4 separate regions of the Homo sapiens genome follow, and regions 2, 3 and 4 are each linked to region 1. The links come from fine-mapping of genetic effects on gene expression. A gene starts in region 1. Each other region holds a variant in brackets. All regions are shown on one strand. Distances are from middle to middle. Region 1 holds the start of TOP3A (DNA topoisomerase III alpha). Region 2 overlaps ALKBH5 (alkB homolog 5, RNA demethylase). Region 3 overlaps EVPLL (envoplakin like). Region 4 overlaps TOP3A (DNA topoisomerase III alpha).

Region 1 (8,101 bases):
GTTGGCCAGGCTGGTCTTGAACTCACGACCTCAGGTGGTCTGCCCGCTTGAGCCTCCCCAACTGCTGGGATTACAGGCATGAGCCGCTGCGCTCAGCCCAAGTATTAATATTTATTGAAAGTTTCCTGCATTCCAGACACCATATTAGGCGTTAGGACATAGCAATTAACAAAATATAATCACTGTCCTTTGGAGTTTAGAGTCCAAGGAGAGGCAGTGACAAAAATCAAATAAATGATCGCACATCCCATTATTTAACTGTAACTAGTAGATGCCTTTCAAGTAGAATAGAGTGCTATGACAGCATGTCAGTAAGGGTCTCTGACCTAGTGTGGGGGAACAGGTGGTGAGGGAAGGATTCCTTGAAGATGAGACATTTCAGCAGCCTCTCTCCTCTAGCCGCCCCAGATGCCAAAAGGAAAGATGGCCAAGGGGAAGAAGTGGCCCTGGCCCCTGTTGTCATGGAGCAGCAGTAGGCCAAAAAGGTGGTAAATCCCATTTGAGAAAAGCCCTAATAATTTTGGCATTGGATATCTAGCCTAAGGGCCTCACCCACTTTGTCAAATAGTCCCGCTATAAATGGCTGCTGCGGCAGAGCCGCTGTACTCTATAAGTGGCTGATGTGCCACCTGGGATTGACCAGTTCACCCAGGCCTCAGACTACCAAACTTAAGCTACTCAATTGCTTAAGCTGGCCCACAGTACAGACAAGAGACAGAGCAAGGGATGAGATCGAAACCGTTGGCCCAGGCTGAGAAGAAAGCTTCCAGCAAAGGGGATGTCGCTACTAAGAGACCACCTACACTTCGAGCAGGGGTTGACACCGTCACCAACTTGGTAGAGAGCATGAAGGGTCAGCTGGTGGTGGATCCCATTGAGCTGGTTGTCTTCCTGCCTGTGCTGTGTCCTAAGATGGGGATTCTCTACTGCACCGTCAAGACTGTGGTGTCAAATTCCACAGGAAGACCTGCACCACTGTCACCTTCACAAAGGTTAACTTTCTGGTAGACAAAGGAGCTCTGGCTAAGCTGGTGGGACAAATTACAACGACATATGAGATCTGCTGTCACTGGGGAGGCAATGCCCTGGGTCCAAAATCTGTAGCTTGCATTACCAACCTAGAAAAGGCAAAGGCTAAAGAATTTGCCACTAAACTGGGTTAAGTACACACTGTTGTGTTTTCTGTACATAAAAATAAAAATTCTCTTTCCAAGAAAAGTCTTTCCTTTTGGCTGGAACTGCCATCTTGGAGTAATTTGCCAAAATGACGAACACAAAGGAAAAGAGGACGAGGCATCTGATGTATGTTCTCCTGGCCTTATAGAAAACATGGAGTTCGAGCTGGGCACGGTGGCTCACGCCTGTAACCCTAACACTTTGGGAGGCTAAGGCGGGTGGCTCACCTGAAGTCAGGAGTTCAAGACCATCCTGGCCAACACAGTGAAACTACTAAAAATACAAAAAATTAGCTGGGCATGGTGACAGGCACCTGTAATCCCAGCTACTAGGGAGGCTGAGGCAGGAGAATCGCTTGAACCCGGGAGGCGGAGGTTGCAGTGAGCTGAGATCACACCATTGCACTCCAGGCTGGGCAACAAGAGCAAAGCTCCATCTCAAAACAAACAAACAAAACAAAACAAAAATATGGAGTTTCTCTGGCCACAGACACCAGAATCTACAATGAAGGTGATATTGAGGACTTCGTGAGAATGCATACTGTTCAAAAGGGAATGACCCACAAATGTTACATGGCAGAACTGGAAAAGTCTATGTTACCCAGCATGCTGTTGGCACTGCTGCGAACAAGGGCTAGATTCTTGCCCAAAGAATTAATGTTTCTATTGAGCATATTAAGCACTCTAAGAACCAAGATCTTTCCTGAAATGTGTGAAGGAAAATGATCAAAAAAGAAGCAAGTCAAAGAGAAAGGGTTCACCTGAAGTGCCAGCCTGTTCCATTGAGGGAAGTACACTTTGTGAGAACCAATGGAAAAGAGCCTGAGCCGCTGGAACCTATTCCCTATGGATTCATGGTATGATAGGGTAAAAATAGATAAATACAAGACCTCTGGATTGCTTAAAAAAAAAAAAAAAAAAGGGAGAGAGAGAGAATGAATTCAGCAGAGCCTTGAAGGATAAGAAGTTAGGCGTAGGAGAACCATTTTTCAATGTCTACTTCATTGTCTAGAAGTAGACAAACCTTGGGGCTGGTCACCAGGACTTCTAGCACTGGAAACAGGTAAAGCTGTCAGCCAGCATTCACACAACCCTGGCTCCACTCCCACTATCCTTGATCTGGAAACAGGTCTTAGGACCCTGGGAACTAAAGAAAAATGAGCAGGGAACTTCCACCCATGCTCTTAGAAAAGTTCTCCAGAAAACCATTTCAGGATCTACTTTTGTTATCTGAGATATTTTCCTGGACAGCTCTTTATGTCTCCCGTGGCACCTCCTTTATGAAACTTTTTCTTATCCTCCCTTGCGTTTGTGCCTCCCGTGTGTGTAGAACACATTCTTACCACTTACCTCTCTCAGAATCAGTTCATTCGGGTAGGAACAGGGCTGACTTCAAATCTAATCCCCAAACCTTACCGTGTTGCTGTAAGTGTGCACTGTGAGGCTGGAAAGTCACAAGGGCTGTAGAATGCAGTGGCTGTGGCACAGGATGGGGAGGGCTAGGTTGGCTGGGGAACGATCGGGCAGGGCTTGAATGCCAAGTTAAGGGAATCTGGTCAGTAGTTCCCAAATGAATTTCTGAATCTCTAGGGAAAAACAGTAAAATACACACTTCCCCAGCCTCACACAAGACCCGAAGGGCAGCCAGCGCCCGAGGCGATTCCGAGAATCAGACAAGTTTGGGAACCTGCTAAGCGCAAGCAAAACAAAAGGTTTCCACGCAAATGAGTGAGATGTATCAACTACGTTTTAAAATGCACTCCAGTCCGAGAGCAGACAGGAGGCCACTGCAATAATCCAGACGAGGGGCAGTGAGGCCTGAGAAATGGGAGATAATCGCCTTCATCTCGATTCTTGGCGCCCACCACGCTGTCCCGCTCGGTGGGCCTCCCTTAAGGCACGCAGCTGATCGGAACGCGCTTTCTTACCCGCCTCATGCGACCGTTTGACAGCAGGTCGGCGATCCCCTTGGCCGCGTCGTTTTTTTCGGCCACACAGAGGACTTTCCGCACGCCTCGGAGGGCCATCTCCATGGCGGCGCGGGAAAAGGCACGGTCTTCGGGCCGTCGCAGCCACCGGAGCGCGTAGCGGGCGACAGGAAAGATCATCCTCAGACCTCGCGCCCGGAGCCGCTCCCCGGCTGCCGGCGCATCCTGGGGAAGCCAGAGATGAGGCTCAAATGGCGCCCACCGAAAGGGAACCAGAGCCTCGCTTCGGTCACGTCCCCACCAGCCTGCTGGCCTTTGGAGCTTCAGTCACTGAGCCTTTCCCGTGCCGCAGCCGCCGCCTCAGCACCGAATCCAGTATCTTGGCGTGGAACTTCCGCCCGCCTTCTCCAGCTACTTCCGCCAGGCGCGCGCCCCACAGCGACCTGGAACTACAACTCCCAGACTGTCCCGCGCCCCTCGTCCAAGCACGTTCCCCTCTGCCACCTTCCCGCCGCCCCCGTCTCACTCCGCCCCTCTTTCCCCTCCTTCCCGGCAGTGGTTGGTTAATCGGACTCCTTCTTGCGGGGAGCCGCCAGACACTCCCATCCAAGGCCTCTTTCTCATGACTTTTTAATCTCCTGCTCGGAAGTCTACGAGGACGCTTCCGGGTCACGCGGCGCGGACACCAGGAGTCATGTGATGTCAAGATGGCGGCGCCGCGGTAGCAGGATCCGGGTTGTGGCGTCCTAGGAGCCGCGACGGTTTCTGCCCTCGGGCAGTGAGGGGCAGCAGCGCTTGGCTGACCCCTGCGGCGTCCCGTAGCCTCGCGTTAAGCCTTGTTCAGAGCGGGGGCTTTTGCTGTCGCAGTGGGTTCCGGAGAGTGCAGGTGATTTCGCAGCAGGTTTCTTGTGCTGGCCGCGCTCGCCGGACGAAGAAGAGAAGGGCAGTTGGGCCTGCGGCCTTGGCGTTCATGAGGCCTCAGAGAGCTCCGGAGGAGCTACAACTGTGAGGGGGCTGCTAGAGTTCTTCTCCTCGGGTGTGTGAGAAGCAGCCTAGGACCCCGGGTTCGGGGAGTCGCAAAGAAGGCCGTAAGGGCTTCACTTCCTTCTCCGGAGGCCTGCCTTCTGCGCGTCGATTAACACCGCATTCTTTCCCACTTCCTCTCAATGTTTTCTTCATATATCTGGAAATATGATCAGCGCCCCTGACGTAGTGGCCTTCACCAAAGAGGAAGAGTATGAAGAAGAGCCTTACAATGAGCCGGCCCTGCCTGAGGAGTACTCGGTGCCGCTCTTCCCCTTCGCCAGTCAGGGTGCTAACCCCTGGTCAAAACTGTCCGGGGCCAAGTTTTCGAGGGACTTCATTCTTATTTCCGAGTTCTCTGAGCAGGTGGGACCCCAACCCTTACTGACCATCCCCAATGACACCAAAGTTTTTGGCACTTTTGATCTCAATTACTTCTCCCTGCGTATCATGTCTGTGGATTACCAGGCTTCCTTCGTGGGCCATCCTCCTGGATCTGCCTACCCCAAGCTGAACTTCGTGGAGGACTCCAAGGTGGTGCTGGGAGATTCTAAGGAGGGCGCCTTTGCATACGTGCACCACCTTACCCTATACGACCTGGAGGCCCGTGGCTTCGTGAGGCCGTTTTGCATGGCTTATATCTCTGCAGACCAGCATAAAATCATGCAGCAGTTCCAGGAGCTTTCAGCCGAATTTTCCAGAGCTTCTGAGTGCTTGAAGACTGGCAACAGGAAGGCATTTGCTGGGGAACTTGAAAAAAAGCTGAAAGACTTGGATTACACCAGGACAGTGCTACACACAGAAACGGAGATCCAGAAGAAAGCCAACGACAAAGGCTTTTACTCATCTCAGGCAATTGAGAAAGCCAATGAACTGGCCAGTGTGGAGAAGTCCATCATTGAACATCAAGACCTGCTGAAGCAGATCCGCTCATACCCTCATCGGAAGTTGAAGGGGCATGATTTGTGTCCTGGTGAGATGGAGCACATCCAGGATCAGGCCAGCCAGGCATCCACTACCTCTAACCCTGATGAGTCTGCCGACACAGACCTTTACACCTGCAGACCAGCCTACACCCCAAAACTTATCAAAGCAAAGTCCACCAAGTGTTTTGACAAGAAGTTGAAGACCTTGGAGGAGCTCTGTGACACTGAATATTTCACCCAGACCCTGGCTCAGCTCAGCCACATTGAACACATGTTCAGAGGAGACCTGTGTTACCTCCTGACCAGTCAGATTGATAGAGCACTTCTAAAACAACAGCATATAACAAACTTTCTCTTTGAAGACTTTGTGGAGGTCGATGACAGGATGGTGGAGAAACAAGAAAGCATACCCTCTAAGCCCAGTCAAGACAGGCCGCCTTCCAGTTCTCTAGAAGAATGCCCAATTCCTAAAGTGTTAATTAGTGTTGGTTCTTACAAGTCCAGTGTGGAGTCTGTGTTGATCAAGATGGAGCAGGAACTGGGAGATGAGGAGTACAAGGAAGTGGAAGTGACTGAGTTGAGCAGTTTCGACCCCCAGGAAAACTTGGACTACCTGGATATGGATATGAAAGGGAGTATCAGCAGTGGTGAAAGTATTGAAGTTTTGGGCACGGAGAAATCCACCTCCGTGCTTTCTAAATCTGACAGCCAGGCAAGCCTCACAGTACCATTGAGCCCCCAGGTGGTCCGGAGCAAAGCAGTCAGCCACAGGACCATCAGCGAGGACAGTATTGAAGTCCTCAGTACCTGCCCCTCTGAGGCCCTCATCCCTGATGACTTTAAGGCCAGCTACCCAAGTGCCATTAATGAAGAAGAATCATATCCAGATGGCAATGAAGGAGCCATCCGCTTCCAGGCAAGCATCAGTCCTCCAGAACTGGGTGAGACAGAGGAAGGCAGCATAGAAAACACCCCATCACAAATAGACTCCTCCTGCTGTATTGGGAAGGAGAGCGATGGTCAGTTGGTGCTGCCCTCCACTCCAGCCCACACACACTCTGACGAGGATGGGGTGGTGAGCAGCCCCCCACAGCGCCACAGGCAGAAGGACCAGGGGTTCCGTGTAGACTTTTCAGTGGAAAATGCCAACCCTTCTTCCCGAGACAACAGTTGTGAAGGGTTTCCCGCTTATGAGCTGGACCCGAGCCACCTGCTGGCTAGCCGGGACATCAGTAAGACCAGCCTGGACAACTACTCAGACACCACCAGCTACGTGAGCAGTGTAGCGTCCACCAGCTCAGACAGGATCCCCTCTGCTTATCCTGCTGGCCTGTCTTCCGATAGGCATAAAAAGAGGGCTGGCCAGAACGCCTTAAAATTCATCCGCCAGTACCCCTTTGCCCACCCAGCCATCTACTCCCTGCTCAGTGGGAGGACACTTGTGGTCCTGGGGGAAGATGAGGCCATAGTCAGGAAACTCGTGACTGCACTGGCTATCTTTGTCCCCAGCTATGGCTGCTACGCTAAGCCCGTGAAACATTGGGCCTCCTCCCCTTTGCACATTATGGATTTTCAGAAGTGGAAGCTTATTGGCTTGCAGAGGTAACTGGTTCCAGGTGGTGGGGAAGGGCCTTGGCCAGATAGGGATGAGGTATATTGGTGTGGTGGAGCCAGAATCAGGAAGCCTGGCTTCTAGACAGGGCCCAGTTCCTACCACTGTGTTACTTTTGGCAAGTCATCCCCCTCTCTGGTTTCTATTTCCTTGTCTGTCATGTGAGGGGGTTGCAGTTCCTAGGTGGTTGCCAATCCCCATCTGTCCCCGAGCTGTGTCAGCATTATTAGGGAAAGTTTTTATTTTTATTTTTATTTTTTTGCAACGAAGTCTCGCTCTTGTACCCCAGGCTGGAGTGCAATGGCGCGATCTTGGCTCACTGCAATCTCCGCCTCCCGGGTTCAAGCAATTCTCTTGCCTCACTGTCCTGAGTAGCTGGGATTACAGGCGCCTGCCACCACACCCGGCTAACTTTTCTATTTTTAGTAGAGACAGGGTTTCACCATGTTGGCCAGGCTGGTCTGGAACTCCTGACCTTAGGTGGTCTGCCCACCTCAGCCTCCCAAAGTGCTGGGATTACAGGTGTGAGCCACCGTGCCTGGCCGGAAAGTTTTTAAAATCATGGATTCCTGAGTCACAAGCCCTCGAGGTTCTGATTCGGTTGGTGTGAGGTAAGACATGGAATTTATCTGTCGCCATTGCCAGCCCGACTGCAGGGAGCATCTCTCTATAAAAGCAAAAGGCCCATCAGAAGGGACAGATGACTCCGGGGGAAAGGGTTAGGCTGCTGTCCCTGTAAGTGCTCTTTCAACCTTCAGAGCACGTGCAGATGTTGGGTGCTGGGAGCATCTGCCTCCAGCATCCTACACAGGCATGAGGTGCAGCGGGCAGGTGTGGGGAGCCCTGCACCCTGGAGGGTCCCCTGCGGGGCCAAACGGGAATGGGATGGGCTACAGCTCACCCAAAGAATTCCTGGGGGAGGTGAGCAGTAGACGCCACCTGAGGGTATGATAAGATGAAACTGTTGTGGGCTGTGGCAGTTAGCGGGAGCAGTGGGTGGTCTGGGTCAAGTCCTGGTGTGCCACCACTCGCTGTCTGGATTCGGACCAACCATCTCATTCAGTCACCCAATCATGTTGAACACCTCTGAAGGGCTCCCGGGGCCCACCTGAGAGCCATCGGAAGGGTCCACGTTTAGTGCATGTCCAAAAAAACACAGCACAGTGCAGTGCTTGGCCCTGAGAAGCACTCAGAGGGTGGAACCGGCACCGACACAGGCAGGCAGACTGGGGCCTACCTGAGGCCCAGCTTTAAAAATCACGAGCAGGAGAGATGTCTTCGGTGGTTGTGACCTTCCTATCCTCGGAGGTGTTGCGCTGCAGAGGCTCTGCACTCTGAGCACCACGGCCCAGAAGTGTGCCTCCTCACTCAGGCCCACTGCTCACATGATGGACTCTCTTTCAGGACTCTCACCTCCGAACACCAGTCTTGCTGGCC
Region 2 (8,101 bases), 120 kb before region 1:
TCTATCTTGGTGTGTACAGAATTGGGACTTGGCAGGTTGACCTTCCCTCTGGATTCAGAAAGCCCCAGGACTTCTTATAAAGTTAGGCCATGGGTCGTCTTGGAGGCTTGGGTCTGGTAAATAATTGAGCCTGAGCTCACAATCCTGCCCCTGGGTCCAGGTGGCTGGTCTGCTGCCCCCAAAAGCCTGACCTTCTTGGTCCTGTGGGTCTGTCAGTAAGGCAGGTAGCCATAGCTGGAGAGAGACAGTCACCAGGCTGGGATCTTGGACAGTCCCTCCATCTCTGGTTCATCCTGGCCTAGGCAGGGCATGGAGTAGATGGAAAATGGTGGCCATCTTGGAAATGTGTCATAACAACTCAGTTTCCAAGACCGTCCCCTAGAGGAGAGATGTACAGTCCTGCATAGTTTCTTTAAAGAATTTTTCAGGGCCAGGTGCGGTGGCTCATGCCTGTAATCCCAGCACTTTGGGAGGCCAGGGCGGGTGGATCACCTGAGGTCAGGAATTCAAGACAAGAATGGCCAAGATGGTGAAAGCCCGTCTCTACTAAAAATACAAAAATTAGCCGGGCGTGGTGGCAGGCACCTGTAATCCCAGCTACTCGGGAGGCTGAGGCAGAGAATTGCTTGAACCCAGGAGCTAGAGGTTGCAGTGAGCCAAGATTGCGCCACTGCATTCCAGCCTAGGCAACAGAGTGGGACTCTGTTTCCGAAAAAAAAAAAAAAAAAAAAAATTTCAGACACCTCATTTAATTTGCACCTAATCTTCTGAGGAGGGGCTTGCTGTGATCTTTGTTTTGCAGAGGCAGAAACAGGTTCTAAGTGGTAGAATAGTTCAGCTCAACACACATTTCATTTAGTGTCCACTGTGCAGGGATGAGTAAGGCCTTTGAAGAGCTTTGTCTTGAAGGGAAGACACAATTTCCACAAGGCCAGATGGAATAGCAAAGAGGCATGAGAGGGTGTGGTTGAGCAATGTAGGGGGAACCCAGCCTGGGCAGTCAGGGAAAGGCCCCCAAAAGAGGAGATAGACATGTCAGCTCCTTCGAGAGTCACTCTGAGGTATAGGACTAGTGGGTGACATTTGCAACATATACTGGTCAGTGCCTCTGGGGCTGGGGCTGGGGGCTCAGCCCAGAGAGGGAGCAGGCAAGCCAGATGGCATAAGGTTATTTCCTCTTCTCCTTTCCCTGTGAAAACAAAAAAGCAGGAGGTCCTGGAACTTTTCATGCCAGCAGTAGGGCTGGACCCAAGGGCATATTAAGTTGCAAGCTGGCCGACTGAGACTTTCAGACAATTTATTTTGTAGCAAGTAGGTTCCTTAATAGTAAATAATACCCTGTGGTCTCTGCTCGACATTTTGTGAGATTGGCCAGGAGAGCTTCCCTTAATCAGGACTTTGAGCTCATGTTGCCAGAGCAGCCGGATATTCTGAGGAAAGGGTCAGTGGGCTGTGTCATAGCTGCTAGGAAGTTCTAGAAGACCAGTACTAATAAGCCTTCCAGGTTGGGTCAGTGCCAAAGTCATTTTTGTGGGCCTGTGCAGCCCTACCTCCATACTAGTTCTTCCAAGGCCTGGGCTCCGTGGCAGGAACCTGACATGGCTTATTGTTTGTTCTAGAGCCCTTTGGGGGATGGGGTCAGGGAGCATGCGGGCAGTCAAGCTTTGACAAACATCTGGATTTGCTCCAGAACTGCATTAAGAAAAGTGGTTCCTTGTTGGAGATGGGAAGTCAGGGCCCTTGGTTATGCATATAGCCAAGTCAAACAGATTGATAACACTTGTCAATGGCAGGGAAGGTTGCCTGTAGCCAGCACTGCAGATTCAGGACTTAGAAACGTGCCTCTGGGGCCGAGCATGGTGGCTCACACTTGTAATCCCAGCACTTTGGGAGGCCGAGGTGGGTGGATCACGTGTGATCAGGAGATCGAGACCAGCCTGGCCAACATGGGGAAACAGTCTTCACTAAACATACAAAAATTAGCCTGTAGTCCCAGTTACTTGGGGGTCTGAGGCAGGAGAATTGCTTGAACCTGGGACGTGGAGGTTACAGTGAGCCAAGATCATGCCACTGCACTCCAGCCTGGGCAACAGAGTGAGACTCTGTCTTTAAAAAAAAAAAAAAGTGCCTTTGAGACCTTTGACAGCTCTTTGGGAAAGTATTGTGTGTCTATATGGGACAGTCTTGCAGTCTAGACCCCCATTCCCCCAGTGTGGAATGATAAAAGCATGGGATGAGAACTAGAGTTCCTAGCTCTGGAAATGGGGCCCAGGCGGCCCCCACTACTGGCAGATCCCTGCAGGGGGAGCCCAGACCATGTCTCTTTGGCAGATGCTGAATCCAGGGCTCTGGCTTGCCCCAGGATAGTCCAGGGCCCTCTGACTTTTGTCAGAGTGCTTAGTAAAGATTGTAGGGTGTCAGGCACCCTGCATTATCTGACTTAATTCTCGCAATACCCCTGCAGGTAGGCCTCTCACCACCCCTTTCCAGGAGTGTCAACCAAGTAGTCATATAATGCTGTTTTTCTGCCTGGAAGGGAGGAGGCCCCGTTTTTAAAATCTTGTAATCTTAAAAACTTTAATCTTGTAATCTTTAAAACTGTCCCCATTTTTAAAATCTTGTAATATTAGTAGCAGCAAAAGAATAGCTAAATTATAAAGCATAACAAAATGAATACCCAAGAACCTACTGTTCTCCTTATTACAGATGAAGAAACTGTACAGGTTTTTAGGTTCAGCATGTGATTTAACAAAGGTCACAAAGCTAGTAGGAGACAAAGCTCACATTTGAACCCAGGTCTCTTCAACTCACTAACTCCTGTGTGGTACTTCTCACTGTGGGCTGATGGGTATTAATAGGTATTATGAGAGAAGGTTCTTTGGTAAGTGCTCAAAGTCAGTGGGTTCTTTTGCTGTAGTAATTCTCATGTGCTTTAAATATATTAATGCTTTTTGAAACTCTAATCAGTATTTTACAAATTGATTTCACTGTAGACATTCGTCCACTGTCTTTTTCTTTTTTTTTTTTTTTTTTTTTTTGAGACGGAGTCTCACTCTGTCACCCAGGCTGGAGTGCAGTGGCACTATCTCGGCTCACGGCAACCTCCACCTCCCAGGTTCAGCGATTCTCCTGCCTCAGCCTCTGCGATAGCTGGAATTACAGGCACCTGCCATCATGCCTGGCTTATTTTTGTATTTTTGTAGAGACGGGGTTTCACCATGTCGGCCAGACTGGTTACGAACTCCTAACCTCAGGCAACATGCCCACCTTGGCCTCCCAAAGTGCTGGGTGGGATTACAGGCGTGAGCCACCGTGCCTAGCCTGTCTACTGTCTCTTATGGGACTGGTGTTCATGGAGAAAATTTTGAAAAATTCTTGTCTAGGAGCAGCTTGAGGGAGAAGGTGGATCTATAAAATAAAGGTTTGGGCCGGGCGCGGTGGCTCACACCTGTAATCCCAGCACTTTGGGAGGCCGAGGCTGGCGGATCACGAGGTCAGGAGTTCAAGACCATCCTGACCAACATAGTGAAACCCCATCTCTACTGAAAATAACAAAAATTAGACAGGCGTGGTGGGGTGCGCCTGTAGTCCCAGCTACTTGGGAGGCTGAGGCAGGAGAATCGCTTGAACCCGGTAGGCAGAGGTTGCAGTGAGCCGAGATTGTGCCACTGCACTCCAACCTGGGTGACAGAGTGAGACTGTCTCAAAAAAAAAAAAAATTAAAT[A/T]AAATAAAGGTTTGTTCTATCCCCAGCATGAGCTCAAATCAGATTTCCAAATCAGAGGTGCTTCCTTAAGGCTGAGCCTGAAGCAGTCTGGCTTTTTATCTCTTGTTGGCTCTTGCATCCAGTTATTAGAGCTGAGGTTTGGCCAGCCTGGCCATCTTGAGGGGTCCTTCCCAGGCCTGCAGTGTTTTTAATAGTTAAGTTTGTGTCTGTACAACTAGCCTTTGAGAAGGGAGCTGATCAGCAGCCATGAGAGAAGGGTTTGTGGTACAGGGCCAGGTAGGGAAACTAAGCCATACTTGTCCTACTAGGCTTGTGGCTGAGTTTCTGGGTGTGTAGAACTGCTGCAGCTCAGTAGAGTAACTTGGAGTGGGAGTATCTTGTGGCTGCCATGCTTCCAGTGATAGCATGTGAGGGGTATAGGAAGCTCAGAGCTTGCTTCCAGAGTTTCAAATTGGAATGACGCTAGCTGAGAAGAGGACAGTCATCTACCCACATTAGTTGGTCTCTGAGCGGTTTTAAAAGTCATGTAACTTGTTGAAAATAAACAGATATCTGAGTATGATGGAAATCCTTTTTTTTTGGGCGGGGGGCAGGGGGTGGGGGTCAGTGGTGGGGACAGAGTCTCGCTCTGTTGCCCAGGTGCAGTGGGCGTGATCTTGGCTCACTGCAACTTCTGCCTCCTAGGTTCAAGCGATTCTCCTGCCTCAGCCTCCCAAGTAGCTGGGATTACAGGCGCCCACCACCATGCCTGGCTAATTTTTGTATTTTTAGTAGAGATGGGGTTTCGCCATGTTGGCCAGGCTGGTCTCGAACTCCTGATTTCAGGTGATCCGCCCACCTCGGCCTCCCAAAGTGCTAGGATTACAGGCATGAGCCATCACGCCCAGCCGGAAATTCTTAAAATATTCAAACACAACTGTCTTCAAAATTTTGGATCCCCCCAAATGGAGACTTCATGTAGATATTCTATTTTGGAATGAGGCAGTCCTAGCTCTCCCTGGTGACTCAGTGCTATCAGTGGCTGCCTTGGCTTTCTCTACCTGCTAAATGGAGGGAGAATGAGGAGGAGCTACAGTGTACTCTCTGGAGTACCCTTTTAAAAAAGGGTTCCTGGCCTGTTCAGGGAGAGTCTTGCTTCCAGCCTCTGCCTTAAGTGGCCAAGGGGTCTCCTTTGTGTCATACCAGGTTTTTCCTTGAGTATTACAGTCTCTTGGCAAAAGCATCCTGGAACTTAATATGATATTCCCTTCCATGTAGATCCTTGAAACTCTCAAGTAATGGGTAGAGAGCAGCCGTAAGACCTAGGCCATGTTCCTGTCCTGTTATATCCCCCAGGAACTTTGGTTGTCTGTCTACTCTTCATGGTCACATGTTCTGTGTTTCTTTTCAGTGGATATGCTGCTGATGAAATCACTCACTGCATACGGCCTCAGGACATCAAGGAGCGCCGAGCAGTCATCATCCTCAGGAAGTAAGTGCCTTGATGTCTGACCTTCTGCCTCACCTGCAGGCCTGTCTGGAGATGTAGCTCTGGGTCCACTTAGAACTCAGCTCCTATGTATCAGTGGCATGGCAGAGTGGAGAGCAGAACTGTTAAGTTCTCTTTTTATTTGAATCCTGTGAGGATAAAGTTGTTTTGTTGTTTTATCAGAAAATTAAGTACTCTATTTAGGGAGTTTAGGACTGAGCAAAAGCATATACGCCCAATATTTGTGGGTATAATCTTGAGACAAGATTTGGGCAACATTCTTCCAAACCTCACCCCACCCCTTAGCCTCTATTCCTCACCTCCTTCGTTCTTATTTGTTACACGTACTCTTGGTGATTATTTTTAGACTGTGCCTTTAGCAGCCTGCTTTAAAAATGCCTGGGTTTTCACTGCTGGAAGGAACAGGGAGTGAAGAGAGGAGACAAGGGTGGGAGGTTAGGATGTAGTATTCGGCAGAATCATGGCTTGTGGCTCTTCTCTGGGGAGGGAATCAGGGATGTGCTACTTAACATCAACAAACCTGGCTTCACCAGCATTTATTTCTTTCACGGGGTGAGTGGAAGAAGCCATAGCCTCACAGACATTGGATCAAGACAAGCCTTGCCCCACTGTCCACCCATCTTGCTCAGGCTGGAATGCAGTGGTGCCATCATAGCTCACTGCATCCTCAAAGTCCTGGACTCAAGCTCTCTTCCTGCTTCAGCCTCCCCAGTAGCTGGGAATAGAGGCAAGTGCCACCATACCTGGTTCACGCCTACCTTTTGAATAGAGTCCCAGAGAAGATAGGTGATTGCCCAGAGTCATAGAAGTCAGTGAGCAGAGCAAAACAAGCACGTAAACTTAGGCTTGACCCATAAAACTTGCTGTCTGTCGTCTTCTTCCTTCCTTCCTTTTATTAAACTTTATTTTTTAGAATAGTTTTAGATTTACAGACAATTGTGATAGTACAGAGTTCTCATGTACTCTGCATCCCATTTCTCCTATTTGTTAATTTTTTATTGGTATGACTAAAGTCCATACTTTATTTAGATTTCCTTAGGTTTTTCCTAATGTCCTTTTTCTGTCCCAAGATCATCCTACGTTACATTTAGTTGACATATCAACTCAGACTCCTCTTAGACTCCTCTTGGCTGTAACAGTTTCTCAGACTTTGCCTTATTCTTTTTTTTTTTTTTTTGAGACAGGGTCTCACTCTGTCGCCTAGGCTGGAATAGGCGGGAATGCAGTGGCACCATCTCGGCTCACTGCAACCTCTGCGTCCCAGGTTCAAGTGATTTCGTGTCTCAGCCTCCTGAGTAGCTGGGACTATAGGCGTGTGCCACAACACCCAGCTAACTTTATTTTTTCGTACAGATGGGGTTTCCCCCATGTTGGCCAAGCTGGTCTCTAACTTCCAACCTCAAGTGGTTCACCTGCCTTGGCCTCCCAAAGTGCTGGGATTACAGGTGTGAGCCACCATGCCCAGCCTGCCTTATTCTTGATGATATTGACTGGTTAGGTATTGTATAGAAAATCTCTCAATTAGAATTTGTCTGATGTTTTTATGGTAAAGTGTATGCCATTTTTACTACATAACCAAGAATATATACTATCAATGTAACTTAACACTATTGATATTGATCATCTGGCCAATGCACTGTCAGGTTTTCCACTGTAAAATTACTGTTTTTCCTTGTCCATACTGTACCCTTAGGAAGGAAGTCACCATGCATGCCCACAGTTAAAGAGTGTGGGAGTTAGCACCATCTCCTTGAGGGGGAGCATGCAGGTGAATTACTTAGAATTCTTCTGCAGGGGGGATTGGTCTACTCTCCTTCATTTATTCAATCATTTATTTATATAAGTATATTTTTTATGTAAGTATGGACTCCTAGGAATTTATTTTATGCTCAAATTCTTCCAGCTTTGGTCATTGGGAATTTTTTCTGGTGCATCAACTTTAGTCAGTAAACAATAACTTTGGCATCCTGGTCCTTTGGGCCCATAACTCCAGAATATTGTAGTGGTGAAGTCTCTTTGGTATGGCTTTGCCACTTTGCCAAGTCAAAACTTTTAGTCTGTTTTAACTATAGTAGATGGGTATGATCCATATCTGTGGGACAGTCCTATGGTACAGGCAGAGCAGTGAACACGTGGGAGCTCCAGAAACTTGGGTCAACTTGGTGGGGTTGGCAGCCTCTCTTTTCTAGCCTAAGACTGTTCCCAGAATTTGTCAGAGGAAGGGAAGAGTTTTTATCTGCCTTGTACTTTATTTTTCTGTGATAACCAGCATAGGCAAGAACTCGGAAACAATGGAGTCCAGAGTGTAGCACTCTTCCAGCCTCTCCTCCAGTCATTTCTTCTCAGGCTGTACCTGGTACCTCCAACTGCAGCCAGGGATGGGTGGCCTGCCCAGGCCAGGAACCTGGAGAGGAACTTCTAATGTTACATAGAACCAGAGCAGTAACTTCCCAAGAGTTCCTCTCATCTTCCCATAATAGCTTATTTTGGGGAAATCTTAGTTGGATGTGCAGGTGGTAGTGGCCATAGCTGGAGTGTCAGTCTTCCAGCTGCTACTCTTTTATTGAATGGTGACTCCCATACCTGGCCGCCCAGTCCAACTGAGTCAGATGCTCCTCAGCACAGCTAGGAGTCTGCACCGTTAATCAGCTCCCTGGGAAGCTTTTCAGCCAGCTAGGTCCCTGCCAGTGGCCTGACCTTGGGAATGGCTGTTACTGGGTGACTGAAGCTCTTCTACCTTCTGACTTCAGTGGGCCCAGGAACCATTCACAGACTGGGCTGGAGTGCAGAAGCACAGAGCTGTGGTGTAAGGGGACTGGAGAAGAGTGGGAGGATGTCCCAGCTTCCCCAGGTAGCTGAGCTGGGGAAGTGCACAGCTGTGGGGAAC
Region 3 (8,101 bases), 68 kb after region 1:
CTCCCCAGCAGTGTGCTCCTGGCCTGGGGCAGCTCAGTCCTCAGGGCCCTGTTGGCTCTGGATCACCTCACGTGCGATCCACTCGTTTGACATGAACTTACTGAGCACTTACTGCATGCCAGGACTGTTCTAGGCACTGGAGATGTCGCTGTAGACAGAACCAACAGGCCCCTGCCTTCAAGGCACTAGCCCTCTAGTGGGATAAAAACTAACACGTGCTGGGTGCCGACTCTGCACCAGGCCTGCACTGGATGTTTCAGACAGATAAATTCAATTAATGCTCACAATAGCCCTAAGGCATAGATATTTTTATTAAAATCCTGCTTTACGAGTGAGGAACCTCAGGCACAGAGAGGTTGAGTAACTTGCCCAAGGTCACACAGCATTAATGATGGAGAAAGATGAAACCAGGCTGTCTTGGCCACAGAGTTCTTCCAGACTGCTGTGCCTTCACCAGCACTGTCCCGTTGCCTGGGGGGGCCCATCCTTTGACCCAGTTCAAGGCTTCCCCTGCCCCAGGATAATGATCCCCCATAAGGCACTGTGCTCATAAGGCTTGGACCAATCTGCCCTCTTTTAGGTCTGCTTGGCCTTGTGACCTCCACAGAGTGACTGCATGCACACAGCAGGTGCTCTATGGAGGCTGCAGGGCGAATGCACAGAAAAAGCCCTGGGGTGGAAGCAAGGTTTCCCCTCCGTCCCTGACCACGTAACTCAGAGCAAGTTAGGGCACAATCTGGGCTTTGAACCCTCAACTCTGGAGAATGTTAGGGTGCCCAGCAGTCTCTTGCGCCTGCCCCCGCTCCCCGACTCTGACAGTGTGAGGCTCCTCTAGACGGCTGCTGAAGCCAGCACTCTGGCAAAGCTCCCTGGGGTGGAGGAGGTATAGGGGAACACAGGGCTGGAGTGGGAGGAGGTGGGGGTGGGGGGCATGCTGCTGCCTCCCTGCCCCAGCCAGCCCAACTGCCCCTCCCAGGGCCCAGCCAGGCTGGCTCAGGTACTACCGGCTCACAGGGGGGAAGTGGCAGGCAGCTGGGTGGGGTCGGGAACTCACTGCCAGCACAGCTGGCTGAGGCTGGGACACCGAGGCCGCCTGACACCCAGCACCACACAGACCTGAGACCCTCACCTTTTGACCCCTCATGTGGCGGGGCAGTGCTAACACCCCCAACCAGGTCTAGCTCACAGAGCCTCCTGCAGAGAGAGACCCCAAAGTCAGGGCAGTGTGCTAGGCTGTGGGGGCGGGATGGGGTGGAGAGAGGGCAGGGGACGCCACCTGGATGGGGCACAGAGGGGCCTCTTCCACCGAGCTGCCCACTGTCCCCTCCACCCACCAAGAATGCCACCCAGGAGCTGACCCTGCTCATCTCCCACATGCAAGCCAGCGCCGACCAGGTGGAGCGGGACATCCTGGAGACGCAGAAGAGGCTGCAGCAGGTGAGAACCCGGCAGCAGTTGGCAGGGTGTGGGCAGGCTGGGTGGCATGGGAGGCCCATCATCAGGCCTGGCACTCCCTGAGTGCCCCCTGGTGATGGTGAAGATGGGACAGATGACATTTGTCCTGCACCGCCTGTCCCCTAACACACGGTGGGAGAGAGGGCTCAACTTCCTTCTTTGCTGGGCTCCCCTGTGTCTTTGTCACCTGCCTCATGGACGCCCTGGGCCTGACCCTGTGCCTGGCGTGGGCCTCGAGGTTGGCCAGCATAGCTGGGGTCCCAAAGGTGGGGCTCAGGCCCACAATGATGGGCAGCAGGGGTGTGGGGGCTCTGGACCCTGGCAAGTCTGCCCATCCCCTGCCCACAGGACCGGCTGAACAGTGAGCAGAGCCAGGCCCTGCAGCACCAGCAGGAGACGGGCAGCAGCCTGAAGGAGGCCGAGGTGCTGCTCAAGGACCTCTTCCTGGACGTGGACAAGGCCCGGCGGCTCAAGCACCCGCAGGCTGAGGAGACTGAGAAGGAGTGAGTGGGGCTGCGGCAGGGCTGGGGGTCCCTGGGGAAGACCCAGGCCCAGCCCTGACCTGCTGGCCACCTTCTTGACAGCATCGAGCAGCTGCACGAGCGGGTGACCCAGGAGTGTGCGGAGTACTGTGCCCTGTACGAGAAGATGGTGCTGCCGCCCCGACGTGGGATCCAAGGTCGACTGGGCACACGTGCTGGAGCAGAAACAGGTCAGGAGCTCAAAGTCACACCCCAGTGTGATCAGAGGGTGATACGGAACTGCATTTAACCCAGGGCCTGACTGTAGGCTTGAACAGTCAGTGTATAGTGGTGTCTCAGGGGTCTGGGCAGGGAGACAGCAGAGGAGACAGTGCAGTCAGGGAAGACTTCCTGTAGGAGGAGGCACATGAAGAGACCTCAGAGGGGTGAGAGGGCTCGGTTGGGTCAGGGTGAAGTAGTGAGGAGAGGACAATTCCAGAAAGAAGGAGCAAAGGCACCTGCCAGGAGGAAGCCTAGGATTCGATGGGAAGTGGGGATTTCTGGCCAGGTGGGCAGAGCCAGGACATGGGGCATTCTGATCCCTGGTTGAGGAGTTGTGCTTTGATGCCACACAGAAGGGGTGTCATCATGACAATAGAGGAACAGTGGGGAAGGGCCCGGGTGCAGCAGGGCGTTCTGAGGGCCCTAGAGCTTGGCTGGAGGTGTCCAGGCAGGAAGCACTGAGGCTGGGTCACAGACAAGGCAGGATGGAGCTGGAGACTTCTGAGGCTGAGCCCAGCGTCTGGGAACCAGTGGGACTCAGGGGCCACTGCAGAATGGCCTCTGCAGTGGCCACCCTGCAGAGCAGAATGGCTCACCCTGGGTGAGCTGCAGGGCGTGCACCCGGGCTGCTCTCAGGCTCGTCCACGCTCTGCCCAAATGACCAAGTCCACTTCTCCGGGTGGGAGACGTGTGGGGTTCTCTGGCTCTCCACCCTGGTCCTGTGGTGACTGAGCCGCCGGCTCTCCTGCAGAAGCTGGTCTGCGCAGGCCAGTATGGGCCGGGCATGGCGGAGCTGGAGGAACAGATCGCGGAGCTCAACATCGTGCAGAAGGAGATCAACGACCAAGGAGAGCAGCTGCGGAGCCTGGTGGGGCCGGTGGGTGAGCCGGGAAGATGTTACATCCGGGGCCAGCCCCAGCCCCTGTTTTTCCAGTCAGAGCCGGAGCTAGATCGGCTGGGCCCTGGGGATAGGGGTGGGTGGGGTATGGCTTGCCCAGATCTTAGGGGGCCGTCTCCCTGTGCCCCACCTCTCACGGGCTTGTTTCTCCCCTTGGTCAAGGCAGGATGCCGCCACCATCCGGAGCCAATACCGAGACCTACTGGTGAGCAGGAGGGAGGGTCGGGCAGGGTGGCTGCAGGTGGGCCTGGGTGGCCGCCCGGACCCTGCCCGGGGCCAGTGTTCCTGAGCGCCGCCCAATGGCGCCTTTTGCCCCCCACTTTCTCTCTCCCCACCCTGCTGCTGGCGGCGGGTCCTGAGCACAGAGGGCGGCGTCGTGGCGCGGGCAGAGCCTGGGCAGCCTGTACACGCACTGCAGGGCTGCACGTGGCAGCTGAGCGCCCTGGCGGAGCAGCAGCGCCGCATCCTGCAGCAGGACTGGAGCGACCTCATGGCCGACCCTGCGGGCGTGCGGCGGGAATACGAGGTCGGCTGGCAGAGGTTGGGGCCAGGCGGGGGCGACCAGGGCCATCCTGGTCCTCACCGCCGCTCCCCACCCGACTCGCCCCCAGCACTTCAAGCAGCACGAGCTGCTGAGCCAGGAGCAGAGCGTAAACCAGCTGGAGGAGGACGGCAAGCGCATGGTGGAGCTGCGGCACCCCGCGGTGGGGCCCATCCAGGTGCGCTGGGGGCAGGGCGAGAGTGAGAAGGGACGTGGTGGGCGGGGAAGGGGGGGGTGGACGTGGGTGCGGGGGCGGGGCGTGGTCCGAGGGCTCCGTGCTGCGGTACCCAGGCCCACCAGGAGGCCCTGAAGATGGAGTGGCAGAACTTCCTGAACCTGTGCATCTGCCAGGAGACCCAGCTCCAGCACGTGGAGGACTACAGCCGGGTGAGCCCTCGGGCAGCGGCAGGGCGGCAGGGCGGCAGGGCGGGAGGTCCCACAGCACACCGGCCCACAGGAGAGGCACTGCACCTCTCAACTAGACAGAGCTGGCAAGTCGCGGTGGCTCACACCTGTAATCCCAGCACTTTGGGAGGCTGAGGCTGGCCGATCACTTGAGGTCAGGAGTTCGAGATCAGCCTGGCCAACATGGTGAAACCCTGTCTCTACTAAAAATACCAAAATTAGCTAGAGGTGGTGGCACGCGCCTGTAATCCCAGCTACTCAGGAGGCTGAGGCAGGAGAATCGCTTGAACCCAGGAGGCGGAGGTTGCAGTGGGCCGAGAATGGTCCACTGCATTCTAGCCTGGGTGACAAAGAGGGACTCCACCTAAAAAATAAAATAAAATAGAGCTGTGTGGTTGCCACTCGGTCCCAGAGGGAAGGAAAGGCATGGGCACATTCTCAACAGGGTGAAGCCGTTCCCAGGGGGGTGAAAATTCGTTCTTAATGGCAGAAAAGTAACTGTTTTTATGCATGAAGTACAGATCCACATACAGCACCTAAGCTGTATACAGCATATCTGTGGTATAAATATTTCATGGGGGCCAGGTGTGGTGGCTCACACCTGTAATTCCAGCACTTTGGGAGGCCGAGCCAGGAGAATTGCTTGACCCCAGTAGTTCCAGACCAGCCTGGGCAACATAGGGAGATCTTGTTTCTATAAAAAATAAAAATAAAAACTAGCCAGGCATGGTGGCTCGTGCCTATTGCTTGAGCCCAGGAGTTTGAGGCTGCAGTGAGCCATGATCACACCACTGCACTCCCGCCTGGGTGACAGACTGTGACTCTGTCTTAAAAAAAAAAAAATCCTGGTGCAATACCTCATGCCTGCAATCCTACCACTTTGGGAGGCCGAGGCGGGTGGATCACTTGAGCCCAGGA[G/T]TTGGAGACCAGCCTGGGCAACATGACGAAATCCTGTCTCTACAAAAAATATACAAAAATTATCTGGATGTAGTGGTGCATGCCTGTAGTCAGAGCTACTTGGGAGGCTGAGGTGAGAGGATCACTTGAGCCCGGGAAGTCGAGGCTGCAGTGAGCTGTGATCACTCCACTGCACTCTAGCCTGGGTGACAGAGCAAGACCCTGTCTGTTAAAACAAAACAGAATAGAGCTGGGGCTTCCTTTTCCAGTGGGTGTGGTGCAGGGGGCACTGGGCCTCCCTTGGACCACCCGGTTCTCTGGGGCCCAGCCTCAGCTCTCTGTGGATGGATTGGGTGGTGCTCCTCCCACTCACTGGCTTCAGCTCGTCTGCAGAGGAGGCAGCAGCGAAAGATGGGTAGAAAGAGATGGGGGAGAGACAGAGGAGGCTGAGAGGGAGAGGAGGATGGAGAGAGCAGAGAGAGAGAAACAGAGATGGGGAAAGGGGCAAGAGATGACAAGAGAGACAGAGAAGCCAGAGAGGCAGAGGGGGAGAAAGGGAGAGAGGGAGAGAGAGACAGAGCAGGAGGTCGGGGCACTCTGGGTCCCAGTTTCCGGTGCAGTTGTAGGTCACCATCACCTAACTGCAGGTGCAATAAAGCCCTCGTGCCTGCTGCTCGCAGCCCCTGAGAGTCCTTCCTCCTGGAGAATAAAACCTTTGAGGGCTGCCCTTCCTCACTGGATTTTGGTTGTTTCTAATGAACTGAGTCATCCTGTCTATCACCTTCCTGGGCTCATGGCTCCACTGAACGCTGCCCCCTCGGTTCGGGAGGACCAGTGGTGCCCCCATCTCACCAGGCTCCCAAGGAAGCTTGTGACCTTGGCTTGGGCCCAAAGTAGCCGGGTACCCACTGGGGCTCTGCTTCTCCCTTCACTAAGAGAAGAAAGAGACCAAAGAATGGTCTGCACAGAGGGCACCTGTGCAAACACCCAGGGAACCAGGGAGTTGAGCCGTCTTCATTTCCTAACAGATACATTCCCTTCTGTGCCTCCTTAATGAGGGCATGAAGCACAGTATGCGTGTGTCCAGCTGTGTGCAAAGGCATGTGTGTGTGCATGTGTGTTGTGGGAGCATGCAGTAGGCAGCAAGGAAAGGGCAGCTCCTGCTCAAAGCTGCAAGTCTCTCTGAAGGAAAGATCAAGATTCCCTGGACCACAGCAGGACAGTGTTTTCATTTGCATCCATTTTTATTAGCATTTAAACCTGTATCTTGAGTAGCATATAAACTTTAAGTTGGTTAACTGTTCTTACAAGCATTTACACAGTAAGATAAACATATGATAATATACACTGAAATTATGCACCCTGCACCCCGCCGTCCCCACCCTGGCCAGAACTATCTTGCAAACCTACACCCAGCAAAAGATCCCATAGTGCACTTTGGGAGGTATAGACAGGAAGCCTGAGTCTCCATCGCTCATTCCATCTTTTCACCAGCTGTGGGCTACCAGGCTGCATTGGTTTGCTAGGGCTTCCTTAAAGTACCACAGACTGGGCAGCTTCAGCAACAGAATCTCACTGTCTCACAGTCCTGGAGGCTGTAGGTCCAAGATCAAGGTGTCGGCAGGGAAAGTCCCTTTCCAGGGCGGTGCGGGAAGGCTCTGTTCCAGGTCTCTCTCCTGGCGTGTAGGTGGCCTTCCCGGTGTCTCTTCACCTGGTCTTCCCTCTATGCATGTCTCTGTGTCCAAATTTGCCCTTTTATAAGGACATCAGTCATATTGAATTGGGCACCCCCTACTGATCTCATTTTTCATTTTAACTTATTTCCATAAGACGCTGTCTCCAAATAAGATCACATTCTCAGGCACTGGGGCTAAGGACATCAACATAGGAATTTCAGGGGACAAATTCAACCCACCACATAGGCCCTCCCTGAGGCCACCTCTGCGTCATCTTTGTCTACAGGCAAGTTGGCATCTAAAAAGTGTCTGCCCAAGACATGCGTCTGGCCCATGGTACAGCCAGTCCACACGGCCAATGGTGAAATCCGGGTGGCATTGTTTCCTCACCGCCATGCCTCATGCAAGCAGCTGCCTTCTTATAACGGTGGACACAAATCCCAGCACTGGTGCAGTTGCTTGCCGGCTGTGGGTGAAGTAGCCCCATGTCAGTGTGCTGCAAAGATGCAGCTTAGAATGTTACGGCTTGTGTGAAAGATACGCAGATTTCTATTCCTTCCAATCTGTGGTTTCAAGTTCTGCTTGAACCCAAGGGGCTCTATAGGGTGCTTCTGGAACAGCCGGGGTGTTAGGGGTGCTGAAAAGGTGTTAGGGTGCCTAGGCTCAACCCCAGCTTCAATCACACAAATAATCTTGTTGACATGATTTTTGGTTAATTTTTTTTTTTTTTTTTTGAGACAGAGTCTTGCTCTGTCGCCCAGGCTGGAGTGCAGTGGCCTGATCTCTGCTCACTGCAAGCTCCACCTCCTGGGTTCATGCCATTCTCCTGCCTCAGCCTCCCAAGTAGCTGGGACTACAGGTGCCCGCCACCACGCATGGCTAATTTTTTTTTTTGTATTTTTAGTAGAGACGGGCTTTCACCATGTTAGCCAGGATGGTCTCAATCTCCTGACCTCATGATCTGCCCGCCTCGGCCTCCCAAAGTGCTGGGATTACAGGTGTGAGCCACCGCGCCTGGCCTGGTCAGTTTTTTAATTGATCTTTTGTATAATTTTTTTGTTTAAGAAAGGGATCCTTTGGCAGAAAGAAAATCTGAAACTCTAAATACTGTCCATTTTATCCATATATTGGTCATACCCCCAAAATATATCCTGATTCCAGCCATTTGTCATGACCGCTTTAATCTGAGCTCCCTTCATTTTTCACCTGGATTACTGTACCAGCCTCCCCAATGGCCTCCCTGGTGCCACCTGGCCCCTCCCCAGGGCTCAGCAAGATTTTTCTGCAAAGGACCTGGTAGTAAGCATCTTGGGCTTCGTGGACCCTGTGGTCTTTGTTGCACCTACTCAGCAGTTACTCAGCTTTCCACTGCAGCCCCAAAGCAGCCCCAGACAAGAAGTGAACACAGGGGAGGAACTGTGGCTCCAATAAACCTTTATTCACAGTAGGAGGGGGGCTTCATCTGGATTGTGGGCCATAGTTTGCC
Region 4 (8,101 bases), 25 kb before region 1:
AAAAAGAAAAAAAAAAGGGCTGGGCGTGGTGGCTCACGCCTGTAATCCCAGCAATTTGGGAAGCCGAAGCGGGCAGATCACGAGGTCAGGAGATCAAGACCATCCTGGCTAACACGGTGAAACCCCGTCTCTACTAAAAATACAAAAAAAAAAAAAAAAAAATTAGCCGGGTGTGGTGGCGGGCACCTGTAGTCCCAGCTACTCAGGAGGCTGACACAGAAGAATGGCATGAACCTGGGAGGCGGAGCCTGCAGTGAGCGGAGATCGAGCCACTGCATTCCAGCCTGGGCAACAGAGCGAGACTCCACCTCAACAATAACAACAAAAAAACAACCAAAAAAACCAGTGAAATAGCAGTTCAGACCTACTGGCAAAATCAAAAAGAGAGATAATACTAAGTGTTAGTAAGGATGTGGATAAACTGGAATCCTAGTGCCTTGCTGGTGGAAATGAAAAACGGTACAGCCACTTCAGAAAAGTTTGGTGGTTCCTAAAAATGTTAAATGTAGAGTTACCAAGTAAACCAGCAATCCCACTCCTAAGTCTACCCAAGAGAAATGAAAACACATATCCACACAAAACCTTGTACAAAACTGTTCACAGCAGGATTATTTATAATAGCCAAAGAGTAGAAACAACTCAAGTGTCCATCAACTGCAACCTCTGCCTTCCGGGTTCAAGTGATTCTCTTGCCTCAGCCTCCCGAGTAGCTGGGATTACAGGCGCCTGCCACCAAGCCCAGCTAATTTTTTCATTTTTAGTAGAGAAAGTGTTTCACCATGTTGGTGAAGCTGGTCTCGAACTCCTGACCTCAAGTGATTGGCCCACCTTGGCCTCCCAAAGTGCTGGGATTACAGGTGTGAGCCACTGTGCCTGGCTCTTTATAGGAAATAACTAAAGTAGGCAAATCTGGCCAGGTGCAGTGGCTCACTCCTGTAATCCCAACACTTTGGGAGGTTGAGGTAGGAGGACAGTTTGAGGGTGCAAGTTCAAGACCAGACTAGGCAACATAGCAAGACCCTGTCCCTACATAAAACAAAAAAGTCTGGCTGGGCATGGTGGCTCAGGCCTATAATCCCAGCACTTTGGGAGACCGAGGCGGGTGGATCATTTGAGGTCAGGAATTCGAGACCAGCTTAGCTAACAGTGAAACCCCATCTCTACTAAAAATACAAAAATTAGCCAGTGATGCGCACCTGTAGTCCCAGCTACTCAGGAGGCTGAGGCAGGAGAATCTCTTGAACCTGGGAGGCGGAGGTTGCAGTGAGCTGAAATCGTGCCACTACACTCCAGCCTGGGTGACAGAGTAAGACTCTGTCTCAAACAAAACAAAACAAACAAACAAAAAACCCAACAAAAAAATTAGCTGGGTATGGCAACACATGCCTGTAGTCCCAGCTACTTGGGAAGCTGAGGTGGAAGGATCCCTTGAAACCCAGGGTTCATGGCTGTGACCTAGCCTGGGTGACAGAGTAAGATGCTATCTCTCCAAAACAAATTTTTTTAGGGGCCGGGCATGGTGGCTAACACCTGTAATCCTAACACTTTGGGAGGCCTAGGTGGGCGGATCATGAGGTCAGGAGTTTGAGACCAGCCAACCTGGCCAACATGGTGAAACCCTGTCTCTACTAAAAATAACAAAAATTAGCTGGGTGTGGTGGTGCGTGCCTGTAAGCCTAGCTACTCGGGAGGCTGAGACAGGAGAATCGCTTGAACCTGGGTGGCGGAAGTTGCAGTGAGCAGAGATTGTGCCACTCCACTCCAGCCTGCAGCAACAAGAGCAAAACTCCATCTCAAACAAACAACAAAAAAAACAAAAAAACTGACTGTGGTGATAGCTGCACAACTTTGTGAATATGCTAAAAAATGTACATTATACATTTGAAGGAGATAAACTGTATGGTATATAAATAAAGCTGTTAATAATTATATATATATATATATAAATTTTTTTTTTTTTTTTTTTTAGATGGAGTCTCTCTCTGTCACCAAGGCTGAAGTGCAGTGGCACAATCTTGGCTCACTGCAACCTCCACCTCCCGGGTTCAAGCAATTCTCCTGCCTCAGCCTCCTAAGTAGCTGGGATTACAGGCGTCAGCCATAACACCTAGCAATTTTTTGTATTTTTAGTAGAGATGGAGTTTCACCATGTTGTCCAGGCTGGTCTTGAACTCCTGACCCCCTACCTTGGTCTCCCAAAGTGCTGGGATTATAGGTGTGAGACACAATGCCCAGCCTGTTAATAATCTTTTAAAAATATTATTATTATTTTTTTGTAAGTGTACCTCTATGTGGTTCCTTTACTTAGAAATCCTGGAAGACTCCCTGCTGACCATGTACCACCATCTAAGCCCTTCAACTGGGCAAGCCAAGGCCCTGCAAAGTCAGGCTTGGATCATCTTTCCAGGCTCACCTTCTATGGCCACCCCCCTCCAATCCAGCTACAGCAGGCTTCTGCTTTCCTGCTCCTGTGCCCTTCCTCAGGCCTACCCTGCACTGGGCTGCCCTTCGCTGATCCAGAAGTCTTACTATGAGGTTTTGGTCCAGCTCAAATGCCAGTCCACCCATCACATTTTCTTCCCTGCCTACTCCCTGCAGAACTATTACATTGTATTCAATGTGTTGGTTTGGTTCTTCTGTTAGATTGAGAACTTAAAAAATGAGGTCTTATTCCTCCTTGTGTCCCTGGTGCTTAGTCCAAGCTCTCACTCTTGTGGGCCTCACACTTTGTACCTCAGTCTCTGCCTTCCGGGCTCAAGTGATCCTCCCACCTCAGCCTCCCTACCTATAGGCATGCACCTAATTTTTTGTAGAAATGTTTTTTTTGAGATGGAGTCTCACTCTGTCACCCAGGCTGGAGTGCAGTGCTGCGATCCTGGCTCACTGCATCCTCCACCTCCCGGGTTCATGCAATTCTCCTGCCTCAGCCTCCCAAGTAGCTGGGATTACAGGCATGTGCCACCACGCCTAGCTAATTTTTGTATTTTTTTAGTAGTGATGGGGTTTTGCCATGTTGGCCAGGCTGGTCTCGAACTCCTGACCTTAGGTGATCCACCCGCCTTGGCCTCCCAAAGTACTAAGATTACAGGCATGAGTCACCGTGCCCAGCCAGATCTGTTTTGTTGTTGTTGTTGTTGTTTGTTTGTTTGTTTTAAGACAGAGTTTTGCTGTTGTTGCCCAGGCTGGAGTACAATGGCACAATCTCAGCTACAGGTGCCCACCGCCATGCCTGGCTAATTTTTGTATTTTTAGTAGAGACAGAGTTTCACCATGTTGGTCAGGTTGGTGGTCTTAAACTCCCTACCTCAGGTGATCCACCCAGCTCAGCCTCCTGAAGTGTTGGGATTACAGGCGTGAGCCACTGCGCCCAGCAAGATGGGGTTTTACCGTGTTGCCCAAGCTGGTCTTGAATTCCTGGGCTCAAGTGATTCACCCATCTTGGCCTCCCAAAATGCTGGGATTACAGGTGTGAGCCACCACACCCAGCCTTCATACATTTTTATCAAATAAATCATGACGGGTGAACCTCTACTAATTTTACCTAAACCTGCAGGGTTTCTGGATGTCCTAGTGATGGTCAAGGACTTCACGTTGAAGCACTGCTTCCCAAGTCATAGGCCTAAGAAACTCCCTTTGTGGATGACGCAGCTGCTTATGTAACACATGCCCAGGGAGCTCTGCTTCCCCTCCACTGTGCTGCAGGTATTCCTGGACTAGGTTTGCCAGAGAAAGCCCTTGAGAGCCTTGACAAAAACGAATGGAGGGGACAGCAGATTAGTTACAAGGCCCTACCTGCAAAGCTTGAGCCATGGGACTTATCAGCAGGGTCCTGGCACATACATGAGGCCAGCGTGAGCAGCCTGAGTGAGCAGTGTGGGTTCAGACCTGCAGAGACAGCTGCCACCCTCACCCAATGCTCCACATGGGAAGGAGGCTCAGGGCTCTATCTGACACTTCAAAATGAAGATAGATTTTATGATAACTGTCCCAAGTTTTAATTGTTGGTTCCTTACATGCTGTTCTTATTCGAAAGAACAACAAATCCTCATGTGGCCAATGGGTGCTCCCAGTTGGGCCCTCAAAGCCATGGGAAAAGTCTCTGTTACTATGTGGACAGCACAGTGCATGGTTTAAGAGCACTGACTGTGGAGTTATTCAGACCAGGTTTTAATAATACACACTTTGTGAACTTAGGTAAGTTCTTAACCTCTCTGAGCCTTATTTCAACTATAAAATGGGATAAAGATATAGCAGCTGCATTAGAGAATGGTTTGAAGACTAGAGGAAACCTGTACCTGGTACACTGTAAGCCTTAGCTCAAGAGATGCGAGTTACCCAGAGGAGCCACTGACCAATGCCATGCTTCTCCATGAGGGCAATGAGGTCGGCCTCGGTGAGCAGCTTGGGTGGGCTGGTCTCCCCGTCCACCATCTCCACGGTGCTGGGCTGAAAGTGGGATCCTTGCTCATAGACAGGGAGGATCTACAGGGAGCGGCAGGTGCAACAGTCAGATGATTCCATCAGCACACTCAGGCAAAAAATAACCTCATTTCAAGGAACATGATCCTGCTCCACTAGAGAACTCAGGGCTCACAACACAACTGTCCTCCCTCTCACTGGGGACCACTCTTTATTACCTTGTCACTCCAGTGATCATATGGATACACATCCAGATAGTTTCGGGCCAGAATCATGAGGCCATGGGCCACAAAGCGTTCCTGAGCGATGTCGATCTCCACTGTGGTCTCCTGCCCCTGAGCATCCTGGGAGCAGCAAGCCAGGAAATGGCGAACAATAAACTCGTACAGTCGCTGTTCATCTCCCTAGGAAGAAAAGAGGAGTA[C/T]GAAACTCCCCCTAGAATATCACCTCTCAAGGACAGGAGCATCACTGGTAGCCTTAGCCTAATGTCCTGCACAGAAGAGGCCACACTGCTCCTCAGGCCCTGCACTAACATGGAGTGCCAGGCAAACAAGTCCTGGGGAGAGGATGGGTTTAGGTTGACACATCTCACAACTCAAATCTGGCAAAGATAAGCAAAGGAGTCATCTTCCCTTCCAGACTGGGAAGTGGTTCTTTGATGTAAACGCAATCTAAGCAGAAAACAAGATGAAAGCGTAAGAAGTTAGCAAGACACTCCTCAAATACAAGAGACAGCAACATTGCACCTGGTGGCCTTAGCCCAACTTCATGCACACATTTAAGCAGTAATTTTCAGGGTAATTTTCAATTAGGTAATCAATGATTTAGTGAGCCTCAGTCTATCAAAAGCCCATGAGACATTTATACACATATCCAATAATTCCCCTTCTAAGGATTTCTTCAAAGGAAATAACTGGAGAACCACAAAAATATTTATGTCTACAAATGTTAACTATAGTATCAAAAACACACAAAAAACAGATTTGGCAAAATAAATTATGGCACATCTTTGTAATTGTTAAATATCATGCTTAATAGGCAATTTTACCCCCTTATAAACTTTTGTATTTCTTAATTTGTCTAAAATGAACATGTAATTTTTTTTTTTCCGAGACAGAGTCTCACTCTGTCGCCAGGCTGGAGTGCAGTGGTGCAATCTCGGCTTATTGCAACCTCCGCCTCCTGGGTTCAAGCGATTCTCCTGCCTCAGCCTCCTGAGAGTTGGGACTACAGGCACATGCCACCCCGTCCAACTAATTTTTCTATTTCTAGTAGAGATGGGGTTTCACCATGTTGGCCAAGATGGTCTCAATTTCCTGACCTCGTGATCTACCCGCCTTGTCCTCCCACAGTGTTGGGATTACAAGCATAAGCCACCGCGTCCGGCCATATTTTTAAAATCAGAAAGAATGTATTTTATTAAAAGAAGGAGGAGAAGAACAAAAGACTAAGATTTCCCCAGCTTTGTGAGAAGCCTACAGATGTAAACAAGCATTTCCCCAACTTTGTGAGAAGCCTACAGATGTAAACAAGCCTAATGGCTCCTGTGCCTGCAGAGCCTGCCCCTGGCTGAGGAAATGACTGAGACAGACAAGCAGAGCTGTGTGGGAAACTGCAGTGACAGGGGGTGGCACGACTGGGGTGGCAGCAAAGTTTCAGGAGGCAACCAAAACTGAGCCAGCCTTGGGAGGATGGATAGAATTCTCTAGTTCCAGGGACTGGGAAGGCCACAAGGCTCACAGTGGAGGTGGGGGTCTGCACAGGGGTTGCCTATGAAGGACTAGCAGGGAAGCAGCAGGAGCTGATGGAGAGTGGGATGTGGAGCTGGATTAAGACGGGGGCCCACCACGGGGAGGGATGAGGCGGTCTTTATCAAAGCCAGGCAGAGGATTGTGAAATGAGAGAGATCTCAAAATCACTTGTTTTTACAATCACAGCCCACAGAGTAAATTCAAACCTTACTACTGACCCCCAGCACTTCCCTATGGGTTCCAGCAGGCAGTACATTCAGGGAAACCAACCTGTAAGTTGTTGGTGTATTTGGTGGGGTGAATGGGAGGGTGAGCTTGGTCAGACTTGTTCCCATTGCGTGGGGTGGGACCACCCCGCTCTAGAATGCTCTGGGCAAAGGCCCCCCAGCGTGGATCGGGGGTCTGCTGTTCCACCAACACCGTCAGGTTTAAGTCTCTGGGAAAAATGTTTGTTTCTGTTCGGGGATAGCTGATGTACCTAAAACCAAGGCAAACAAACAGAAAAAGAAATTGCTAGGCTCTCTGATTGGTCTATAAACAACTGAAAGCACACACTAACACCTGCAAACACTCATCTGATGTAGCCAACTCAACTGAAGGCAGCCTACATTACCTGCTTCAGAAAAGTTCTGAGATGAGATGCACCCCCTCATGGGATGAAAAGCAGCTGGCTCTCCTGCTAGCACACTCAAAGAAGCCAAAAGGGGCAGCACAGCACAGGAAAAAGGCCAGCAGCCTCATAGCCTGGGGCTTGTCACTGGCCACTCTGAGGGTCAGTCTGACAGACCAGCCCTGATGCAGCACATGAGACTCACTGACCCTGACAAGTTCCACCAGCGTGTGCTTCAAGACTTTTCTTAGAGTACACAAAGAACAATGCTGTCCGATAAACTGTAATGTGGACTCTATTTGTTTTTTCTTTTTCATTTTTGAGATAGTCTTGCTGTGGCACCCAGGCTGGAGTGTAGCAGCGCAAGCTTGGCTCACTGTGGCCTCCGTCTCCCAAGCTAAAGTGATCCTCCTGCCTCAGCCTCCTGAATAGCTGGGACTACAAGTGTGTGGCACCATGCCTGGCTAATTTTTTTTTTTTTTTGTAGAGACAGGGTTTTGTCATGTTGCTCAGGTCGGTCTTGAACTCCTGAGCTCAAGTGATCCTCCTGCCTAGGCCTCCCAAAGTGCTCAGATTTCAGGTGTGACCCAACATACCCAGTCTCTATTTGTAATTTTTGTTTCCCCCCAAGAGACGGAGTCTTGCTGTGTCACCCAGGCTGGAGTGCAGTGGCGTGATCTCAGCTCAGTACAACCTCTGCCTCCCGGGTTCAAGCAATTCTCTTGCCTCAGCCTCCTAAGTAGCTGGGATTACAGGTGCCTGCCACCACACCTGGCTAATTTTTGTATTTTTAGTAGAGATGGGGTTTCACCATGTTGGCCAGGCTGGTCTCGAACTCCTGACCTCATGATCCACCCACCTCGGCCTCCCAAAGTGCTAGGATTACAGGCGTGAGCCACCACGCCCAGCATAATTTAAAATTTTCAATTAGTCACTTAAGTTACTGAGATTACATTCTATTTCATAGAAGTCTTCAAAACCCAATGTATATTTTACATCTATAGCGCATCCCAATTTGGACAACTTGAATTTCAACTGCTCAATAGCTGCAGGCTGGACAGCACAGTTAGAGGACCTCAGTGCTGGGGTGTATATGACTGGGGCGGGGAGGAGTTTCACAGGCAAACAACTTTTAAAGGTGCCACCCACTGTCTGCCACTTGCCAGGGCCACAGGGAGATGGCTGAGGAGTCAAAAGTAAGATCTGAATCTACTCTATGGGTTTTTACATAGAAACACCTTTTCTGTATCAGAAAAGAGAAGTCAAAGTCAAAATCCTACCTCAGAGCTTGGGTGCTATCTAGACAATCAGTTTTTCCCCA

Evidence for each region.
Region 2: its variant is fine-mapped to the expression of TOP3A in whole blood (INTERVAL, PIP above 0.99).
Region 3: its variant is fine-mapped to the expression of TOP3A in spinal cord (GTEx, PIP above 0.99).
Region 4: its variant is fine-mapped to the expression of TOP3A in whole blood (TOPMed, PIP above 0.99). The same link has a PIP of 0.9 or more in blood mononuclear cells, skeletal muscle and spleen.

What each region holds. Positions count from the first base shown.
Region 1 is chr17:18,311,496-18,319,596 of GRCh38, forward strand. TOP3A (DNA topoisomerase III alpha) reads right to left here and starts at 3,499. Exons shown (of 19, transcript NM_004618.5): 1 at 3,104-3,499. The coding sequence starts at 3,283. SMCR8 (SMCR8-C9orf72 complex subunit) reads left to right here and starts at 3,798. Exons shown (of 2, transcript NM_144775.3): 1 at 3,798-6,654. The coding sequence starts at 4,295. It also overlaps the pseudogene RPL7AP65 and the pseudogene RPL21P121. RefSeq lists enhancers at 2,548-3,071, 3,019-3,108, 3,119-3,468, 3,596-4,119, 3,809-3,858 and a silencer at 3,619-3,668.
Region 2 is chr17:18,189,840-18,197,940 of GRCh38, forward strand. It overlaps ALKBH5 (alkB homolog 5, RNA demethylase), which reads left to right. Exons shown (of 4, transcript NM_017758.4): 2 at 5,116-5,196. Among named protein-coding and RNA genes, the nearest start is that of ALKBH5, 10 kb to the left of the region's middle. The variant A/T (reference allele first, on the strand shown) is at 3,726.
Region 3 is chr17:18,379,564-18,387,664 of GRCh38, forward strand. It overlaps EVPLL (envoplakin like), which reads left to right. Exons shown (of 11, transcript NM_001145127.2): 2 at 1,339-1,437; 3 at 1,804-1,958; 4 at 2,040-2,167; 5 at 2,950-3,075; 6 at 3,263-3,301; 7 at 3,462-3,622; 8 at 3,708-3,815; 9 at 3,929-4,024. The coding sequence starts at 1,375. Among named protein-coding and RNA genes, the nearest start is that of EVPLL, 5.8 kb to the left of the region's middle. RefSeq lists enhancers at 516-1,017, 2,961-3,532, 3,533-4,103 and a silencer at 3,615-3,724. The variant G/T (reference allele first, on the strand shown) is at 4,961.
Region 4 is chr17:18,286,205-18,294,305 of GRCh38, forward strand. TOP3A (DNA topoisomerase III alpha) reads right to left here. Exons shown (of 19, transcript NM_004618.5): 11 at 6,441-6,648; 12 at 4,638-4,823; 13 at 4,353-4,482. Among named protein-coding and RNA genes, the nearest start is that of TOP3A, 25 kb to the right of the region's middle. The variant C/T (reference allele first, on the strand shown) is at 4,844.